2 separate regions of the Homo sapiens genome follow, and region 1 is linked to region 2. The links come from fine-mapping of genetic effects on gene expression. A gene starts in region 2. The other region holds a variant in brackets. All regions are shown on one strand. Distances are between the middles of the regions.

The links. PIP is the estimated chance that this variant, and not a neighbour inherited with it, causes the effect. A credible set is the group of variants that fine-mapping cannot tell apart.
Region 1: its variant is the best candidate, but not a certain one, in a credible set for the expression of FAM124B in whole blood (TOPMed, PIP 0.65).

The regions. Positions count from the first base shown.
Region 1 is chr2:224,376,924-224,382,305 of GRCh38, forward strand. It overlaps FAM124B (family with sequence similarity 124 member B), which reads right to left. Exons shown (of 2, transcript NM_001122779.2): 2 at 1,775-3,285. The coding sequence ends at 2,650. Among named protein-coding and RNA genes, the nearest start is that of FAM124B, 22 kb to the right of the region's middle. The variant A/G (reference allele first, on the strand shown) is at 2,143.
Region 2 is chr2:224,399,324-224,404,705 of GRCh38, forward strand. It overlaps FAM124B (family with sequence similarity 124 member B), which reads right to left and starts at 2,784. Exons shown (of 2, transcript NM_001122779.2): 1 at 1,714-2,784. The coding sequence starts at 2,445.

The sequences.
Region 1 (5,382 bases), 22 kb before region 2:
ATTATATAATATACAATATAATACAATAATCATAAAAAACTCACACATTTATAATGCTTCATGAAATCCAGATGCTTTCATATACAACATCTTGATTCCCCTAACAATCTTTTGTTACAGTTGATAAAGCAACAGAGGACAAAGGAGCCTGACATGCTCAAGGTCACATCAATAGTAAATTTAAAAGTGAAACCAAAATCTGGGCCTCCCCACCCAGTTCACTGGTATTTCCATCCCATCATGTTGTAAATTGAATTCCTGTGTTGAGTAGTGTGATGGTTAATATTGAGGGTCAACTTGATTGGATTGAAGGATGCAAAGTATTGTTCCTGGGTGTGTCTGTGAAGCTGTTGCCAAAGGAAATTAACATTTGAGTCAGTGGACTGGGAGAGGCTGACCCACCCCCAGTCTGGGTGGGCACCATCTAATCAGCTGCCAGCGTGGCTAAAATAGAGCAGGCAGAAGAATGTGGAAGGACTAGACTGGCTGAGTCTTCTGGTCTTCATCATTCTCCTGTGCTGGATGCTTCCTGCCCTTGAACATCAGACTCCAAGTTCTTCAGCTTTGGACTCTTGGACTTACACCAGTGATTTGCCAGGGGTTCTAGGGCCTTCGGCCATAGACCGAAGGCTGCTCTATCAGCTTCCTTACTTTTGAGGTTTTGGGACTTGGACTGGCTTCCTTGCTCTTCAGCTTGCAGACAGCCTATTGTGGGACTTCACCTTGTGATTGTGTGAGTCAATACTCCTTAATAAACTCCCTTTCATATATACATCTATCTATCCTATTAGTTCTGTTCCTCTAGGGAACCCTGAATAATACAAGTAGGATAGAATAGATGACATTTTAAGGGTATATTATTTTACAAGTCAATTTTGTAAGGTGCCTGATTCACATTTCTCAATATTCTTTATAATTTTCAGGTACTTTTATTCTTACCCATGTATTATATTAAGAAAATTTAGATAACATCAAAAAAAAAGTGGGAAGGAAATTTCAAAACTTCTTCCTGCTGTGCTTATTCAAAGTTCAGTAGTTCAACTTCCTTTTTTGTTTTAACTCTTATTATAGAAAGCTATACCAAAGTTAAGCTCTTCATCCCGTTTTCTAAAATCAAATTGTAGTCTAGGGGAGAGAGAGACAAAATGGGAATGAGAATATGTTGATGTTTTAAGGACAAAAAATATCAATTGAGGAGTCTTGTCTTTGTCCATTTACAACTCTCCTCCGTTTCTATCCCTTTTGCGGAGAAGAGCACCCAAAATCAGCCTAGACTCACTTTTGCAAGATTTGACTTTAGGACTGAACTCATCTCTGTCTCCAGTTAGGTGTAGTAAGTCTCCAAGTCTCCAAAAGATCCAGCTAAATCAACATTTACACTCTTATGTAACATCTGTTCTGAGAGTGAAGTTCGTGGAATTGAATAACCTTATAAATGAACTGAAACACAGGCCTCGGGATTTTTAAACATGTGTGTACAGACATATCCAAAAAATTCAGCATATGGGCAACGAGAATTTGTCCATTGCAATTATAATTGCAATTCATAATATGCCCAGTCTCCATCTGCAGGTTGCAAATGCTTATTACACCATTATGTGGCCAGTGTGGGCCTCAACTGTGGAAAAAGTTTTTGGAGGAATATATTTGGAATTCAGTATCTTTTTAAAAGTTGGTAGAATGAATTTATCAGAGTGGTGAAACCATAAACACTTTTTGGGTTTCATGGCCCCAGAATGTATATGTACCATATACACAATGTCTTATTCAAATGTAGGTATTCAAAAAATGTTTATTGAATGAACATATATAAATGAATGAATGAGTGCGTTTTGTAAAGGAATCTGGGAGTCAAAATCTGGCCAGAAGAACCCAAGTCCTGCTCCAGTGACCAGATCAACCAGTCCAATTTTCCCACTGTGCTCAATGTTCCTCTTTGGTTTGTAACAAGAACCACTGTCCTCTTTGACATAGTGCAGAAACAAATGAGAAGCAGATGAGCAGGAAAGCCCTAGAGCCTAGCATTCATGTTCAACCTGATTTTCTGGCTTCCAGTATTTTGGCTCATTAAACAGGAAAACAAAATTAACTGTTTATAATTTTCAAAACACTTTGCATTTTCACTCATTCCAGATACAAACA[A/G]CTTTAAAGACAAAATCACAAGGAGGGTATGTGAACAAGGCCTAGTTACCAAAAGAGGTCACATGAAAATTAAAAAGCATTCAAGAGTAAATAGCAGTCCATATTGTCCAGGGGGATGAGCTATGCAACCTAAGTAAAAATTAAAACCAAATTACAGACACTAATTAGTGTTGTATAACATACCGATTCATTTGCATACAATGCAATTATCCTGATAGGTGCTGGATTCAACACATCCAGCTGGGTTAGTGCATCTCCACGGAACAAAAGCATTCGGTTTTTTTCCCTGTGTGTTGGCTGTGTTCTCTTATGACTGTGACGGCAAATAAACAATCATTCCCAGCACCTTTAGACTTTGAACATTTGAAATAAAATCAATACAGATTGTGCATGGGGAGCATTCAGCCCCCCTCAGATGAACAACTAACAGGCTGATTCTGGGTCAGTACTCCATTTCTAGAACATTTTATCTGATCTTGTGTTTTAGAAAACCACATTTATTTTATGCTATATAAAGAATTCTTCTTCATCTTCTTCTTTTTCTTCACCCTGAACTTGCAGATGAAGGAGACATTCTGAAATTGTCTTCCTGGTACCAAGGTCCCTTTGGCCAGCAAGTGGCAAAGGAGAGACTCTTTCCTTAAGGACACTGTTGTTTTTGGAGGTAGCCACCCCCAAGGAAGAGGCTGGCAAGCAGAATGGTGGCTGGCTGGTCTGTAAATCCCTTGGAAATCCGCCAAAATAAGTCTGCCTGGGTTCAGAATTTATGATGGTCAAGCCGGTGTCAACATTCGTCTCGGCCTCAAGCTTCTGAAAGCTGTTTTCCCGGTTGAGGACCTTCATTCTGGCCCCGGATTCAAGGTGATGAGAAGACAGGTGCAGGTGGGCACCCATAGCTGGGCTGCTGACCTGGAATGACCGGCCAGGGCTTTTCCACGAAGTGCCAGCACACCTGTCTGATGTGGGGCTCCCACTGGGCTCAGGAAGCTCCAGAGAATGCCCCTGGGACCTCTTGCCCTGGTTCCTCTGGCTCCTGGGTTCTGAGGTCCTCTTTGCAGAGACAGAAGTCAGCCTGGAGCCCAGGGGAAGCATGCCAGCTCCCAAGATGCCATTCTTAACACCAAGTTCTGGATTCAGCTGAACCTACAGGAAAGGAAAGGAGGAACATATGAAACATAATTTCCATTAACTAAGTGCCAAGAGCTGACTATGCCTTATTCACCCTCTGCCATGCCATGCCCATAGCAGACTTTCAGTAAATTTGGTTGAATTGAATAGAAGTGATAAGTACAATATAATTATGAGATATCTAATCAGACCCAGCCCCAAATACCTCTCTTTGGGACTCCCTAAATTAAGTTTTTGACAAGGGTAAGACTTTGGGAATCAAATGGCCAATTGACAACACCACACTTCTGGTAGAGCAAGTTGTTCAAACAATGCAGACATTCACAGATGTCATTCAGTGACCTCACTGGATGTTGTAAATGATATATTTATTAGCAACCATGTAAAAAAAGAAATTTAGAAAGCCACCAAACCATGTGGTTAAAGTTAAGATAAGGATTGAAGTAAGAATTCAATCTTCCAAAGCTGGTGATCCTTCTTTTAGATCATGCTAATAAAAATACATATCTTGGGCCATTCTAAGACATGTGACCACTCCAGACGGCTAATAATTTGGCAGCAATATTCTTTAAATTCTTGGGGCACCATTTATTTAGATTAGAGGCCTGGTATTGCATGAGAAAACAAAAAGGGGGCATGGCTTATATGGAAGTTTAGGTGTTTTCATCCTTAGCAATTCCACTCTGGTTACAAACTTACAGACACCACTCAGCAAAACCCTCACCCTGCAGTTGACTGCACTCTCCCTCCACAGGATGGAGTTCACTGACCCCCCTTTAAGACTTCCACCCTTGGGAGCCTTGCATCCTATTCCATGCACAACACTCTTCCCAAGAAGATTTCTGGAAAAAGGCAATTTTTTCCATTTTGATAACAGCCCTTGGAAATTTGTATCCAGGATCCATCCCTACCTGGCCCAGCCCTTAATCAAATATCAAGAAGAATGATACGGAAGAACTTGCAATAAATACTACTAACTGAAAGAAGCCTATCTGGGCTCATGCCTGTAATCCTAGCCCTTTGGGAAGCTGAGGTGGGAGGACTACTTGAGGCCAGGAGTTCAAGACCAGCTTGGGCAACTAGCAAGACCCCATCTTTACAAAAAATAAAAACATCAGCCAGACGTGTGGTCCATACATATAGTCCCAGCTATTCAGAAGGCAGAAGAGGGAGGATCCCTCGAGCCCAGGAGTTCGAGGTTAAATTGAGTTATGACTGCACCACTGCACTCCAGCCTGGGTGACAGAGAGAGACTATATGATGCCAACTATATGACACTTTGGAAAAACCAAAACTATGAAGACAGTAAAAAAATCAGTGGTTGCCAGGGGTTGGGGGGAGGGAGGGATGACTAAGTGGAGCAGGAGGACTTTAGGGCAGTGAAAACTACTCTGCATGATACTGTAATGGTGGATGCACATCCTTATACATTTGTCCAAACCCACAGAATGTACGACACCAAGAATGAACCCTAATGTACCCTATGGGCTTTGGGTGATGGTGATGTGTCGTTGTAGGTTGATCAGTTGTAACACATGTACCACTCTGATAAAGGATGTTGACAGGAAAGGAGGCTCTTTTCGGGGGGAAGGTTGTATATGGGAACTCTCTGTTCTTTCTGCTTAATTCTGCTGTGAACCTACCACTGCTGTAAAAAATAAGGTCTATTTCAAGGGAGAAAAAATAATGATACATATTTATCTTACAAGGCAAGAAGGCAGAAATGAGGACAGTGAGAAAACAGGTCTAGAAATCAGTAAATTCTCTCTCTCATACACACACACACACACTCACACAGAGCATATTTGTTTGTATAGATGACGCAGAGTACATCTCAATTTTCTGATAGAAATGGTGAGGTGCATATTACCAAGCTGCAAAAACAAACACACAAAAAAACAAGGACTTCCACTGATTCTTTTAGAATAGAAGTTGGCAAATATTTTCGGCAAGGAGCCAGACAGTAAATATCTGAGGGTTTGCCGGCCATATGGTCTTTATCCCAACTATCCAACTCTGCTGCAGAGCAGCCATAGACAATATATAAATGAATGGCTGTGTTCAGTAAAACTCTATGTATGAACACTGAAATTTGAATCTCATATTTTTTAT
Region 2 (5,382 bases):
GGGTTTTATAATAGGCAACTAACAGAAACAGTGCCTGTCTACCTTATGTGAGCAAGAAGGTGAATAATTTAGAAATCATTTAATATGGAATATGATTCATGTTTTATTAACAAGTCAAAGTGATGACAACAAAATTAACCAAATGGAAAGACATCTCATCTTGTAGTCTCTTATTACTTTATTCAATAGGCCTTAAGGAGCTTCTGACCATTTCTTAAGGACAGAAGCCACAGGATATTTTGCTGTGAACATGACATTCATCCCCCTGCTTGCACATTTACACACATACACTGGACTGCAGCGGCTGACCACATGAACTTTGAGGGTAGATAGATACTTCCTATCTTGGGCAAATAACTGACCCCCTGGAAAGCTCAGTTTTCTTATCTCCAAAATGGGAAAAATAGTAACTTCATAGGTTGTTATAAGTATTAAATAAAATTATCAATTTAAGAGAATCCTTAGTATAGGGCATAATATGAACAATAATAGCTAAAATTGAGTTCTTGGCACTATCTTAATTATGTACTTTATAAGTGTCAGGTCATTTCCTGTAAGTAAGTATGAGAGAGGAAGATGCTAATTCTCGGGTGCCTTTATTGTGCTAATGAAGAAACTGAGGCCCACAGTCATACAGCTACTAAGTGCCCAGGCTCACATACCATGGAAAGGCAATGCACGGCAGCTATCATGACTAAATACACACATGCTATGTTAGGTTTTCGAGGATGGTTACAAAGGAAGGCTTTAATTTCAAGTTTTTTTAAGAAAGCATTCTATCTAACTTGGTATGTGGTAAAATTTGACAGTGATGCAAGATGCTTAAAAATTAAGTCAATACGAGTTGATGGGTGCAACAAACCAATATGGCACATGTATACCTGTGTAACAAACCTGCACTTTGTGCACATGTACCCCAGAACTTAAAGTATAATAATAAAGAATAAAAATTAAGTCAATAGTACTGCAAACTTAACATCCCTAAACAAGCTCGGCCAACATAGTGAGACCCCGTCTCTAGAAATAAAATAAAATAGCCAGACATGGCGGCACGTGCCTGTAGTCCCAGCTAATCAGGAGGCTAAGGCAGGAGGATCACTTGAACCCAGAAGGTGAAGACCTCAGGGAGCTATGATGGCACCACCGCACTCGAGTCTGGGCAACAGAGGAAGACTCCCATCTCTAAAAAATAAAAAAATTAAAAATTAAAAAAACCATATCTAAACATAAGTATGACTTCAACTTCCTTAAGTCAGATTAGAAGAGCTTGTGACATTCCTGAGCCCAAAGAGTAAACAAAGGATAGGGGTATAGTTGATGGGCATTTAAACGGCAAGCCTGAGAAAGGAGGCCGATTCTTTAATAGGATTCTGATCTTTATAGTAGAATCCTGTCTGATTCTACTATAAAGTACTTGTGTCAGCTGCAAATTCATGGAATCTGAACTTTCTTATCTGTCAGATGAGATTTTATGAGATCAGTGATTCTCAACCCTGTTACAGATTACAGTCATCCAAGAAGCTGTAAAAAAGTTACCTAGGCCTGGATGTTCCCAGAGATTCGGATCAAACTGCCCTGGGGTGGGAATTTATGAAAGACCCTAAGGGACGCTAATATGCAACCAAGTCTGAGAACCACTAGCTTAGGCCCATTCCGATGTAAAATTACACAGCTCCATGAGCCTCTACAAGATCTGAGACAAAACAGAAATACCTGAAGCAGAATCTTGTTGCCATCGTAGTCCTGAGTCTGCCACCTGGTGCTGCTGATAGGCATGCATGGATTGGGTAGCAGAGGCACTAACTGGCCGATCTCTTGAACCTTAAACTGCAGCACCGAAGACTCTTTGGGGTCCACTGACATTCCCGGGGGCAGCTGCTTCAGGGAGAGCTGCAGAGCAAAGCTCTTGGAGGCATAGAGCACGAAGAAACAAAAATTGCTCTTTTGCAAGGTCGCTTCTCTCTGCAGGATCATCTCGTAGAGTCTGATGGCGTCTTCATAGTTATCAAAACTGCAGTACAGCGTCACCCTCAGGATCTCGGAGCCACAGTGCACCTGCCTCACCCCCCAGATGGGCAGCTGACTGTCCAGGCTGTAGAACTCCTGATTGGCAAAAAAGTAGGGACACAGCCTTCCCCGAGTGTCCTGGGTGGGGTAGCACTGCCATGGCGAATGCTGGAGAGAGTCCAGGACGCGAAATAGCCTATCCTCTCCCGGGCTTTCGTGCAGGAAGAGCAACACGGACATCCCTGGAAACCGGGACCGCTTGGAATGGGACTTTTCACAGTATTTCACAGGACTGGCCCGTTCAGACACCTGAAAGAGCCGGACCTCTGGGCAAATGCAATCCAGGAGCTGGTCCAGAGTCCTCTGCAGAAGGGAGCCGTGCCCAGAGTTGGCAAGAAGATGGACAGTCATGGCCAGAGGCCCCTGTGTCTCATCCATGGAGGAACTGCCTGAGGCTGACAAAGACAGCGTGTGTAGAAGGCCCACTGTTCAAGTTTCTGAAATGAATGAAGAAGCGGCCCAGCCTTCAGCCCGCCTGAAAACCTTCAGCTGCAGCGGCTACTTCTGAGCAGAGCTCTTAACCAGACTAACACGTGCTCCTGGCCACCCGTGGACTTACGGCAAGAGAAGCTCACACCAGCTCGGGTTCAGCAGCCTCCCTCTCCACACAGCAGCAGCGGGGTCACGTCATCCAGCTTGTGCATAATGTAACTGCTTGTGTTTAGCCTTTTCAGGCGTTCCCCAGGGTTTCTGCGTGACCTAAAAACCTATAATCCTGAGAAACACCCAAATGGGCGGCTCTTATAGACACTTAGTACAGGAAATGACCGGCCGAAAAGGAACATGAGTTGGCTCTGTTAGGCTGATAGCAATCTGTTTAGTTGAAAAGACATCCATTTTATCAACTTACAACGGGTTCTCATTTCCTACTTACGGTTTACAGTAGCCTGCTCCACCAATCTGAATACAATGACTTCTTGAAAACAATTCTCAAAACCTGACCCTTTGCCAGTTTTTTTTTTCCTTTGTCTCTTTATTTCATTTTGTTTCTGAACATTTTCTGCTAGGGCACGAAGAGAAGACTTTATCTAAATAATTTTGACTTCACTGAAAATTATTTGCTGTACCGAAAATTCTGAGTGTACTAAAAAGACATTGAGAAAATTAGTCTTCCTTTATTCACGCAAATTCTTTAGAAAGAGTGAGAGCTTTCCTATAATTGCTCATATAATTATAATAATAAATAATTATAATTAACAATTGTAATTATAATTTTTAGTGTCTAATGAGGATCTACTATGTACCAGTCATAAACTGTTCTAATTCTTAAAGTAATTAGTTTTGTTTTGTTTTGGAGATGGAGTCTTGCTCTGTCGCCCAGGCTGGAGTGCAGTGGCGTGATCTTGGCTCACTGCAACTTCCACCTCCCAGGTTCAAGAGATTCCCCTGCCTCAGCCTCCCCAGTACCTGGGATTATAAGTGCGCCAACACGCCCAGCTAATTTTTTTGTATTTTTAGTAGAGACTGGGTTTTGCCATGTTGGCCAGACTGGTCTCGAACTCCTGACCTCAGGTGATCTGCCCGCATTGGCCTCCCAAAGTGCTGGGATTACAGGCATGAGTCACCACACCTGGCCCTTAATGTAAATTAATTTAATCTTGCAACAAACCTATGAAGAAGAGATTACTAGCCCCAAATTACAGATGAAGAAACTGGGGCATAGAAAGGCTAGGTAACTTGCCCAAGGTCTCACAGCTAAGAAGTAGCTGAAGGATGATTTGAACCCAGGAACTTGCTGCACTGCCTCTCTGGGGCCTTGAAGTCCCAGCCTGGGTATTCTTCTTGTAAGGAAAAGATATAAAAGCAAGTTCTGGTTAAGGATCTAGATTTGCAGACTCTTGAGCTGTTGAATCTTAAACGGAATAATCTTCAATGAGAAAGTTGTCAAGCTCTAAACACTCACCCTAAATGTGTTCTAAATATTGATTTAAAAATTATTTGTGGCCACGCATAGTCGTCACGCCTTGATCCTAGTACTTTGGGAGGCCGAGGCGGGTGGATCACCTGAGGTCAGGAGTTCGAGACCAGCCTAGGCAACATGGCAAAACCCCGTCTGTACTAAAAACACAAAAATTAGCCGGGCAAAGTGGAGCATGCCTGTAATCCCAGCTACTCAGGAGGCTGAGGCACAAGAATCACTTGAATCCAGCAAGTGGAGGTTGCAGATCGCACTACTGCACTCCAGCCTGGGTGATAGAGCAAGACTCCGTCTCAGAAAATAAAAAATAATAAAAATAAATAAATAAATAAATATTTTTAAAAAATCATTTGCTCTCCTGATAGCTGTGCTCCTCAACAGGTATGAACAAGCACTTTTTCTAAACACAATTCTTTTTAAAAGAGGCAATTGGACCAGGCGAAGTGGCTCACAACTGTAATTTCAACACTTTGGGAGGCCAAAGCAGGACAATCGCTTGAGCCCAGGAGTTCCAGGCTGTGCTGACCTAAATTCATGCCACTGCACTCCAGCCTGGACAACAGAGCAAGACCCTGTCTCAAAGAAAAAAAATGTACTTCAAAAAGAGCTGTAAAAAATTAAAATAAAAGAGGCAAATTTATGAATCCTTATAATGAAACACAGTGTGACAATTTTTTACATTAAAAAATACTTTTGTGATGAAAAATATAACAACTTTATATATCTGGATTCCTTTAATAGTATAACAACCTAATTTAAAGTAAAATATTATTATCCAAGAAAAGGAGTTATTTCTATTCAGATTCACTATGTAAATCTAACGTACAATTCTAATCATTTGTGTTTCATAATTCCTGTACTTTTTGCATGGGAAAAATACATAAATACAATTTATAACAGAGGAATTGTTTCCTAGTTATTGTGAGCAGCTCAGTAATTAAATTCATCTTGTTTCAACTTTTAAAAAAATCATTAGAGGTTTTTTTTTTTGGCATTACAAATCTCAAGCTTTTTTAAAAAAAACTCGACAGCATTCATGTTATGCATTGGCATTGGAAGCAGATAACTATCTCATCTCTCAGTGTGAACACTCTCCCTTCCGCAACCCTTCCATTCACAGAGCTGATTGTACTTTAGACAAAACTATAGTTTTTGAAATAGGCTTTGAAATTCTGGAAATAACTCTAAAGATTTGAGGAGAAAAATTGTTCCCCTGAAACCACGATATTAACTCACAACATTTTGCACAAGGTAAGTATTAAAGCTCTTACATAGGAAAAGATTTTGTTTCTTGATATTATCTTCCATCTAATGCTGAAAATACACTTTTTTCCTGATGAGGTTGTCATTTCTTTCAGGATTGAAAAGATTTCATTAATCTGTTGGCAGCCAAAGTG